3 linked regions of the Homo sapiens genome follow. The protein of the gene in region 2 interacts with the protein of the main gene of each other region in a pairwise test. Each region holds a gene or a part of one and is shown on either strand. Other genes may lie near its edges.

The links.
Region 1: the proteins of VEZF1 (region 2) and AGR2 interact in binary tests that used the Homo sapiens proteins (3 or more experiments, as listed by UniProt).
Region 3: the proteins of VEZF1 (region 2) and SPAG16 interact in binary tests that used the Homo sapiens proteins (3 or more experiments, as listed by UniProt).

What each region holds. Positions count from the first base shown.
Region 1 is NC_000007.14:16,803,556-16,807,155, forward strand, and holds the start of AGR2 (anterior gradient protein 2 homolog precursor), read right to left. Parts: upstream 1,445-3,600; 5' UTR 1,380-1,444; intron 1-1,379. UniProt on the Homo sapiens protein: Required for MUC2 post-transcriptional synthesis and secretion. May play a role in the production of mucus by intestinal cells. Proto-oncogene that may play a role in cell migration, cell differentiation and cell growth. Promotes cell adhesion.
Region 2 is NC_000017.11:57,986,281-57,990,109, forward strand, and holds the start of VEZF1 (vascular endothelial zinc finger 1), read right to left. Parts: upstream 1,975-3,829; 5' UTR 1,832-1,974; coding exon 1,799-1,831; intron 1,671-1,798; exon of another isoform or gene 1-1,670. UniProt on the Homo sapiens protein: Possible transcription factor. Specifically binds to the CT/GC-rich region of the interleukin-3 promoter and mediates tax transactivation of IL-3.
Region 3 is NC_000002.12:213,924,435-213,928,263, forward strand, and holds part of SPAG16 (sperm-associated antigen 16 protein), read left to right. Parts: intron 1-3,829. UniProt on the Homo sapiens protein: Necessary for sperm flagellar function. Plays a role in motile ciliogenesis. May help to recruit STK36 to the cilium or apical surface of the cell to initiate subsequent steps of construction of the central pair apparatus of motile cilia.

The sequences.
Region 1 (3,600 bases), on a different chromosome or scaffold from region 2:
TTTTGTATTTAACTGACCAATGATTAACTAATCCATAGTATGTAAGCACAAAATGTCTTACTCAGAAAAGATGTAAGCAAAAATCAGGGATATACTTTGTTCATTTTCTATACCTACAAAGATGTGGAAATGCCAATAACTTTTGTCTTCTAGAGTTTTGCAAAAACAACCTAAGTGTTCACTGTAAGTCAACAATTCTCAGCCCTCTTTGTATAAAGACTTCTTTGTAATGTTAAAAAAATCAAGAACTTTTACATGAGAATAATTATACATTTGGAATACTGGCTGGTTCAGAAACATATGGCAAATAATTTCTTTGAATCTATCAACAAACATTTGATTTTATCTTTTATTTATAACAGCATCTATATATATTCTAAAAAATAGTAAATTGATGGTAAGGCATTTTTATTTACTTAGCCCATTTACAGTTCTTGTTTTCCAAGTAGCTATTAGGACCTTGCAGTATCTCCAAAGATCACAGGTTGGAACTATTGATATATTGCTTGTGTTTTACGGCAGGATGACTCAAGGAAGGCTAACATAACTCCTGCTGTACAAACATCCTGCTGTGGGGTGACTTTCTGAGATTCACTCCACTGAGTTTTCGTAATGTGAATAGATTCTGCTCTGCAAATTTCCTGCATAAACCACCTCAAAACACAATTCCATGGAAAATATTGATAATTTGGAGACACACACAGACATAGGTACACACACACACACACACACACACACACACATTATGTGAAGCCAGCACTTTTTACTCATCACCGTATCCCTGTCTTCTTGTCTTTAGCAAATAATGAACTTGCAAGACATTTTAGTGTCCCTATTTGTAGATGCTTCAGGAAAGCAACCAGCTCTCTCCTCTAATAGCCTATCCCATGAATTTAAAGATTGCAGAGGCAACAAGAATGTCTTTGCAGCAAAAAGAGAAAGAAAACTGTTTTCTGATTTGCAATAATATATTCCAAGCGGGCAATCCGAGCTGAGGTGTCATAGTGGAGAAGCCTATGGGGCTTTGCTTTAGCCCGTGGGAAAGAAAGCTTTAGATGGTGACTGAGACGAAAATCCCTGGACCCTGTCCCAGGCTTGAAAAATCCTAGGATTCACCTACTCTTGGAAATTTTGTTTCGCAAAAGAGAAAGCATTTCTCTGAACTAACTCGGGAACGTCACACTGTGCCAGCTCTAGCCAAAGAAAGGCCCCAGTAAGACTTTTGTGGAAATTCCATGATTTCCCTTCCGTATCCTACTTCATTGCCTTTGGAAACTTGCAGTTCTCTGTTGCTTGATTGCCTACAACTTTATATAGCAATCAGAGGCCCGAATTCACTCCAGCAAGTACCCTTCTAAAGCTGCTGTCAGGAGCCTTACCTGGATTTCCTCACCCACCTGCCTTGTGTGAGTCGGCGGCTAGGATGCGGTCCAAGCTTCTGAGTGTGCCAGCACAGCTGAGTCTCTATTTATGCACCAGGGCATACCTCAATCCCACCCACTAGTGCTGCATTTACTTGTTGCTAACTCAGAAACGAACCTTCCTTTCCCCAAGTGATTATCTTCCCTGGGTTAAAGAGTTCCTTGTTTTTAAAAATAACATTGCAAAAGTATGCTTTTCAGTATGCATGTTTTTAACTATTTGTGAAACGTATTGTTAAGAGGTTTTGAAACGATGGGCAGAGTGCCAAATCCAGGTAGACTTTGAATGAAGACATTTGATTTGCCTGAAGGCTGATTTGTCTTTACATGATTGGACAGAGTTTGTAGTTTGTAGATTTTTTTTCTGCTCCGTGGGCAGATTGCCTTTATTTACTTGAAGACACACAAGAGATGATTCACAATTCTGATCCTCGCAGTCATATAACCTGCCATACTCCATTATGATAAAAATTATTTTCTACAATACTTCCCTGCTCCTGTCAAAACAATGCACCCTAACTTCTACAGGTATGAAAAAAAATACAAATCAAGTAACCCACGTAATTTTTCAAAACTGAGGAAGTATTGGCAAAAAAAAAAAAAAAAAACAGCCTAATATCGTGAGCTTGTAATAAATGCCTTGCCATTGAATGTATGCAGCAACTTCCCTCCACAGAGTTCAAAGGTATTTCACAGATAATCTCTTATTTAAAGGCAAACTTTCCTGCCACGCAAGCAGGAAGCCATTTACTCCATTTTCTCAGACCTAAAAACTAAGGTCTGCAACCAAGTTTTTTTTCCCCTCAAGACCATTTAATTACTCCCTGAAGATTTTAAAACTGGAATTTAAATTTTCTGTCAGAAAATTTTAATCCTGTATTTTGTTCATGAAGTTGTGTGCAGTCTTTAAAAGCTCAGAATGAAGAAAATGTTAACAACAGAAAGTTAATGAATGGGATGCAAGCCCTATATAAATGACTTTTTAAAATGAGTTAAGGTCATAATATTTCAAAAACATTTGCAAGTATGTATATTTTTCCAATAAATCCTTGAATTCTGTGGGCAAAATCGTGATTCTCCAAATACTGAATTTCCTTTCAATTCTAATGAATTTATAGAAGTAATTTCTTCAGGAGTTTGAAAACGATGATTTGAGCAAAATTCTTAAAACTAGCAGGCCCTTAGATAGACCCTTGTAATATTCAATTCCAGTCTTTCATTTTACAGATGAATAAATGAAGATGGCAAAAAATTCATAACTTTTTGAAGGTCTCACAACTAGTTTAGGGCAGAGTTGGGACCAAAGTCCTTCAGTCCCTTATCCACTGAAAGTAACAAGTGGATGGGATTTGGAGTCACGAGATTCCCATCTGAATCCTGCATCCTGGTGCTTGCTCATAGGATGATCTGAGATCTCATTTAACATCCCCAAAACTTCAGTTTCTCCATCTATAATATGGGGATAATATTAACATACGGGACCATTTTGAATATTAAATGACTTTTCCCTGTATTGCCACATGGTTTTTCCCTCTGTACCTGTCTGTGTCATTTTTTTCCTTTTCTTATAAGGACACCAGTCATATTGTATTTGGGTCCTGCCTAATGACCTACTTTAACTTAATTACCTCTGTAAAGATCCTATTCTGAAGTCCTGGGGATTAAGACTTCAACATATGAATTTTTGGGGGGGACACAATTCAGCCCATAACATTTGATAAAAGTAGCTAATGCAGGCTGGCTTAAGACCTAGTTGTTGGGTTGATCAGTGCAGCAAACCACCATGGCACACGTTTACTGATGGAACAAACCTGCACATCCTACACACATACTCCGGAACTTAAAAAAAAAAGTCTTTGATTTGTTACAGTTAATTATAGTGATATAATTATTCTATACTCATGTGCCTAATCTCATGTCGGGAAAAACCCAGAGTTTGTCATAGTGGCTGACGGATGGCAAGGAGGAGGTAATTATTAGCAGATATCCTACACATGCTATTGAGGCTGTGGAATCTTTGGCATATCTGTCTTGGTGTGAGGTAACTAGGGTTCTGTAGATGGTACATATAGTATGCTTTGAGACAAGCAAAGGAGGGGTTTTTGTTTTATGCTATTAAACTTCATCACTTTTAACAGTGATGCCATGTGATCAGTCCTTCAGGTTTGCCTGATACTGT
Region 2 (3,829 bases):
TATGGGTTTTTCCTTTACATGAAGAACACTTTTTTTTTTCAATCTCTATAGACACCATGCTTAATATGGTTTTTAATCACACGAAAATCACTTCAGTGGCACATCAATCCCATATTTTAAAATAACCATTTGAGCTTTTTTCTGGGGAAAGTATTTGCCACCTTTACACCAACCTGGATGCATGCTAGTTATATATCATTTCTTTTCCAATGCATTTTCAAGTTGGTTTATCACATTATTAGCAAGCTCATCAAAGTACAATAAAACAACACTGATCAGAATGAGAAAAGGGGGAAGTTCATGAATTCCATAATGTTGGGTATTTTAGATTTTAAGAAGCCCAAATATATTTCCATAACTACTTAAAGATCAAATTGCCCACATTTGAAAAAATATGTCTTAAAACAACAGGCCAGTCTACACAGTAGGTAATTTCTGAGTTATCCAATTCTCTATATTAACTCCACTAGGATGAATCCAGTGGCTGGGAGAATAATTTTTTGAAAATTCTGCATCCGTTCCTGTTAGTTTCAAAAGGTATCAAGCGCCCCAGCTACGCGTTTGGGATTTCACGAAGTATTCAAAGGAAAATAACTCAGAGAGGCGGGAAGAACGCACTTAAAAGTGACGAGCTTCCTAACCTCCTCCAGTTCCGAAGTTTCCCCGTGAGCTCATCGCTACTGCCCACTGAATGCTTCGTTTTGCAAACAGAAACGAAGTAGGAAAAAAATAAGTTCCAGCCTAGATCTGCCAAACAGGGGTCCCCCATCTAAAGTGGGCGGGCAAGAGAATTGCCAAAACACATCGGCTACAGTCACTTTCAAGTTTCTTGCAAAAAAGCGAAGACCAACATCCCAGAGAGTGACTCATCTGGGGGCTTTGTAAGCGGACTTTGTTTGCTCTCTCCACTTGGTTGGAGGAAACGTTCGAGGTGGGCGAGAAAGAAAAGCGCTTCGGGAGAAGGTCGGGCCTCCAGGAGTCCCGGCCCCCACCGCTCCCCGCCTGCCCCGGGCCGGCCCGGCTGGGGGATTCCCCAGGCTGAATGGGACGGCGGGAGAGCTGGACAGAGGGAGAAGGTGTCAGCTGCCAAGGCTCGGCTGAGACTTGGGAAAAAAAAATGTAAATCCAGTGAAAAAGTTTGGGGAGGGGATACACACTCACAACATCCGCCCCCCCAACTGGGTAAACACGAGAGGGGTGGTGGCGGTGAGGGGGAGTGGCGGGGAACCTGGGGATACCCGCTATTCGCGGGGACACGGGAGGGGGTCAGAAAGTCAACACACGCACGCACACACACAAAAAGACGAGGAAGGTGAAAAGAGAACAAGCGAAAGATGGATGAAGTGGCGGGGAGGAGACTCAGGGCAGGACCTGGGGACCTCCTCACCCCACCGTGGGGGACCGGGCCGGCACGCAATGGCCCAGCAGCCCGCGCTATCCAGCGGCCCGGCGCCCTCCTTTCTCTGGGCCGCGGGGTGGTGACAGCGACCGGCCTCCTCCCTTCCCCTTCAGAGCGAGAGGGAAGGGTGTGTGTGAGTGTGTGTGTGTGCGTGTGTGTGCTGGGGGGCCCCCGGGTTCACCCCGCGGCCTGCTATCTCCCCCGCACCCCGTGAGGCCGCCTCCTTTCACCTCAGCAGCCCCGCTTCGCCGGGGCGGGCGGGCGGAAAAACAAAGGGGGATTAAGGCCGGGCCGGAGAGCGGAGCCGGGAGGGAGGGGAGGAGGAGCGCCCGCCCGCCCGCCAGCCCGGGGCCCGGCCCCCCTGTCCCCCCCGTGCCCCCCCGGGGGGGCCCCCAGTACCTGGAACAGGAACGCGGTCCAGTTGGCCTCCATGGCTGCGGCGGCCGACCCCCCTCCTCCCCACTCCCCCCGCTCGGGGAGCCTCCTCAGCCGGAGGAGGCGACAACAAAGCGGCGGCGGCGGCGGCGGCAACGGCAGCGGCGGCTCCTCAACATGGCAGCGCCGAGCGCGGCCACTTCCGGTAACCTCCGGGACGCACCACCGCGGCGGCGAGCGCGGGCGGGGGGGGAGCCCCGGCCCGGCCGCCGCCGCCCCCAGTCGCCCGGACCCCCTCTGGGCGTCCCCGCTGCCGGCTCGCCGCCTCGGAGCTCAGCCAGTGCCCGCTGGCGGTGGGGTCAGGGCCCCCGCGGGGGGGCTGGGGTGGGGCCCGGGGCGGGGATGGGGCGCGGCGTCCCCCCCCGCGGGGGTGTGTGGTGCTGCGGTCCGTGGCTCAGGCAGCTGGAGCAGGGGGAGCTCAGGAGAGAAGATGGAGGACGCCAGGGTCTGGCGCTGGCCCGCTGGGCACAGCTGGGCCGTCTCCCGTGACTCAGACACGGTGTCCAGCACCGTCGCGTCCCTGTTAGACCCTCAGCGGAGGGCACAGGCCACGGCGGACACTCGGCTCTTCAGTCGCTCATGCACAGCATGGTCCCCACCTCCAAACTGGGGGAAGCCCTTTCGACTTCGAGCCTCTCTTCCTTTTGGCATTTCCTCCCCGGCCGGCTAAGCCCTCTGCGCTCTCGCTATGATATGCATCTCATGGCGAGATGGCCTTCCAACTCAAGCAGGGAATCCCACTGGGGTGCAGCCTCAGATCCTCTCAGTGTGGAGGGAAACACTTCCCACGCGTAGAGATGTCATTACTGGGTTATTCTTGGGTGAAGGGCTGAGCCTCCCCATCCTCCCCTTCACTCCAAGATAGGATGTGAAATTCTATCCCAACACCCCTCCTCTCCCGCCAAAAATAAAAACAAGTGAGATAGTATAGACAAATTATTTTAGTCCTTTAGTACAGTCTGTTTCCTCCTTCACCCCCAGAACAAAAATCGAACTTCTGGTTGGACAGCGTCAGATGTCACTGAGGTGACCCCAGCCTGTTTGCAGTTCCAAGTCTTCCGTGTAGGCGTCACTGCTACTGGAACTTTGTAGATGAGGAGCCTGTATGATGATGTCCTGAACATTTCTATCCTTTCCTCACACAGAGGGAAGCTACTGGGAATATCAGAGACAAGCTATTATTAAACAAGTGTCTCTAGTCCAAGACATCTCCTGTGGCAGGGAAATGAGGGGGCAGGCTGTATCAGTGATATTTTTATAAACTCTGGTTTTAGAAAAAATTCTTCAGATGGACGCATTATTTTAAGACTTTAACATTTTCCAAAACCAACTGAATCTTATCCCCTCCATTTATCCCCCTCCAGACACTTCTAATCAAGGTCACCATCTCCAACTTCCCCCATAGACAATAAAAATATGGCTGGAGAATTCTACTGTAATAGAAAACCAAGGAGATATAGTAATTTGACAGTGTGTTTCCTTTCCATCCACTAGACAAGAATACCCCCTCCCATTCTTTCCTCCCCTCAGTCACCAGAATGAAGGGGCTGGAAAACGTTGGTCTGGTTCCTTTTAGAGCTGATTCCCCATTGGATACTGCCTGGAGGCCTTGGGGATGAATGAGAAGTTCTGCAGTTTGGATCAGTAGCAGAAGCAGGTAACACATCAGGGAACCGGTCAGCCTAAGATAGGAGGGGACAGAAAATGATGAAAGAGTTTCTGATACATTTATCAGCTAAATTGCTATGGTCACCCCCATGTCTCCTGTAATGTCCAAACCTAAGGAATTAACTAAGTAAACTAAAACCTTTGTGTTCTTGCTCTGACCTTGGACAATGGAATTCTTCTTATTTTCATTCAGTGGATAGCAAATCTGCTTCTTCCCTGCCTTAACTCACTCAAGGTCTCTGTGATGCACTCCAGAGTTTTCCTCCTTCCCTGCATAGTCTTCTCCTCCCTAGCTGCCTTTCAAATTGGTGAAAATGAAGCTTCAGG
Region 3 (3,829 bases), on a different chromosome or scaffold from region 2:
CTCCTCTCTGTTCTCTGTGTTCTCCTGCTGCCTTCATGGATCCCAGCATGGTTTCTCAGATGATTGGCCTGCAGGGTCAGTGTTGACTAGCCTTTTAGTTCCTCTCTGTGAGAGCAGCACATACAAGCTGCTTCTCGTCTGCCATCTTGGCCCTATCCCTCATCTTTATTTTCATTTCCTTTGGCCTAGGTAACTTTTTTTGGTACTTTTTCATTTTGCTTTGCTTTGCTTTGCTTTGTTTACTCTCAATCTTTGTATCTCCTTAGAAGTTTAGTGTGCCTCGTGTAAAAATCATATAGCTGAATTTGTTTCTTTTTAGCCAAACTGAAAAATCTTTGTCTTTTATGTCTTTTAGCTTCCACTTTAGTCTATTTGTGTTTGTTGGATTTGTTCATATGTTTGTATTTCTATCTAAAAACTTATTTTTAAAATTCATTTTCTATTTGTATCATTTATTCTAGTGCTTTTTTCCTCCTTTCCTATTTTCTTTTAGATATATTAGATGTTTATAATTGTAAGTTTTTCTTACCCATTTCTTTTTTTCTTATACTGGTTTGGAAGTCATATGCTCTATTACTATTCTTATAGTGCTCACTCTTAACATTTTACCATGCTGACTGAATTTAGTAAAGCCTAAATTGATCAAGGTTTTACTTCTCTTCTTAATAGCACATGAACTTTATTAATACTATATCATTATTGTTTTTTTTTATTTTTACAAGCATTTTTGTTTTATTTTTGCAAGCATTTTATTTATCTACACAAATATTTCTATATACTTACATGTTTACCAAATTGTTTGCTCACTATTTCTTCCCTTTCAGATCTTCTGTCCCTAAAATATATCCTTAGTAATTTCTGTAGGAGAGGACTGCTTTGTTTAGTTGGAACATTAATACTTGTTCTTGTTTCTTTTCTTCCTTTTTTTTTTTTTTGAGGTGGAGTCTTGCTGTGTTGCCTAGGCTGGAGTGCAGTGTCACAATCTTGGCTCACTGCAACCTCTGCCTCCTGGGTTCAGGCAATTCTCCTGCCTCAGCCTTCCAAGTAGCTGGGGCTACATGTGTCCACTACCCTATCCGGCTAATTTTTGTATTTTTAGTAGGGATATGGTTTCACCATGTTGGCCAGGCTGGTCTCGAACTCCTGACCTCAAGTAATCTGTCTGCCTTGGCCTCCGAAGGTTCTGGAATTACAGACATGGGCCTCTATGCCCAGCCTTGTTCTTGTTTTGAGAGAGATTTTTGATAATTCCAGAGTAACATTATTTTCTATTAGCTCTTTGAAGAAATTTCACCCCTGTGACTTATTTTCTCTGTGATGTTGTTTAAGTGTTTTAGAGATAATGTAGTCATCTTATGAGTCATAGTGAAGATCAAATATATATAAAGAGCTTATTAGTGTTTCTAACACATATTTATCACTATATAAATAAATAACCTTATTTTTCTTTTTTCCCTCCTTTTTTTCTTATAATTCTTATTATTGCCAATGCTGCTCAGCAATTCACTAAAATGCATCTAAGTAAAAATTTCTTTTTATTGACACCACTGTTTATCCTGTTTGGTATACATTTTTCTTTCCAAACATGTGGTTCTAGGTCTTAAATTTTCTAGTTTCTGTACATTCTCAACCCTTAATTCTTTGAATGTTACATCTATCTTTTATTTCCATTCTCTTCTGGAATTTTGATTAGGAAAATATACTTTTTTATTGTATCCTTTATAATTTTAACCACCTATACTGTGTTCAGTTCCTCATCTGTCTATAGTTGGGATAATTTTTTCAAATATGTACTTTATTTATTTTTATTTTTTATTTCCATAGGTTTTTGCGGAACAGGTGGTGTTTGGTTACATGAGTAAGTTCTTTAGTGGTGATTTCTGAGATTTTGGTGCACCCATCACCCAAGCAGTATGCACTTTACCCAATCTGTAGTCTTTTACCCCTCGCCCCACTTCCATTCCACCCTTTCCTCCAAGTCCCCAAAGTCCATTGTATCATTCTTATGCCTTTGCAGCCTCGTAGCTTAACTCCCACCTGTGAGTGAGAACATATCATGTTTTTCATTTTTTTTCCGGATTTATTTCCCAATTCATTTACTCTGAATTTTGCTGTTTCTCATATGCTATTTAACCCATCCATTGATTTCTTAATTTCAATAATTTTATTTTTAAAATTTCTAAATATATATTTTTTTCAGATTTGCAGATTCATGTTATAACCTTACGTCGTTTGATCTTTTTATTGTAGCTGTTATTTCCTTATATACTTTACTTATAGTTATATTTTGTACCCTTTAATTATAACAACTAGTGTCCTTCAGGGTATTTGTTAATTTTATTAGCTCATCCTCAGTCATGGCTTCTTATTTCCCATTATGTGTTTGAGAATAATTTTGTAAGCTCATACTTGGTTGAATTTTATTTGCAGAATTTTGAGTAGCTAATTTCTAATAACTTGGGCTGTATACCAACAGCGTGGATCTACATTATTAGTCAGCTCAGTCTGCCATAACAAAATAACAGAGACTGGGTAGCTCAAATAACAGAAATTAATTTCTCACACTCCTGGAGCCTAGAAGTCTAAGACCAGAGTGCCAGCCTGATCAGGTTCTGGTGAGGGCCCCCTTCTTGCCTTGTAAATGGCTGCCTTCTTGCTGTGTCCTCACAATGCAGGGAGCGAGTTAACTCCAGTCTCTTTCTCTGATTATAAAGGCACTAATCGTATTACAGGGTTCCCGTGCTCATGACCTTGTCTAAACCTAGTTATTTCTCAGAGGCCCTACCTCCGAATACTGCCACATTGGAATTAGGGCATCAATGTACGGATCTGGGAAAGGAGTGGCACAGTCAGTCAGTCCATAACATTCACTTGTGCTCTTTTTGAGAGCTTTGGTTCCTTCTATTTGTGTGGAGCCCAGGGAAACTCTGATCTTTTGCATCTCTTAAAACACACTTTTTTGATTTTAGTGTACCATTCTTTTTCTCTCTCTTGATTTCTCTCAGCCCTCAGAAATGGCCTTTATTTTTTCATGAACCAAAGTTATACAGTTTTCCATATTTCAGGCCATGTTTTTGAAAGGCAAAACCATTTCAAAAGAATGTTCAGAAATTTATATTTGATATATTTTGGATTTAGTATATGAGCTCTGACTCTATATATTAAAAACTTATGGGAATATTGTTTATATTTATTGTTGACTAAATATCAGTTACAGCACTCACAAAGAAATAATACTGCTTCATTCTAGTTGTAATTATTCCAGTGTGATTTGTTTTTTTTGCCTGGCACATGGTTTAAAACACAAAATAAGCATATAAAACTTATATGAGAGGGTTTTTCAGCCACAGGCAGAAACATACCACAATAATTTTTATCCTATGCTAAGATTTTGGTCCATAATAACATGATACCCATTGGAAAGATAGATTTGAGAAAGAAGCATGCTTAAATAATTTTTAAATTTTTTTACATGCATGTTTTTGGATAAGTGTATTGTTCAATCTTTAATATTAAAAACTAAAATTCTGAATGACAAACATATGTGCAAACCAACTATTGTGGCAAAAACAGTTTTTGTTGGTGAAGGGACTAGCTGCCATTTGGTGATTTTTCAGATAGTCAAATTTGAAAAATCAATTGGATCTTCTCTTCTCTTCTCTTTTCTCTTTTTGAGATGGAGTCGCAGTCCCCCAGGCTGGAGTGCAGTGGCATGATCTCGGCTCACTGCAACCTCTGCCTTCCGGGTTCAAGTGATTTCCTGCCTCAGCCTCCCGAGTAGCTGGGATTACAGGCACACGCCACCATGCCTGGCTAATTTTTTTTTTTT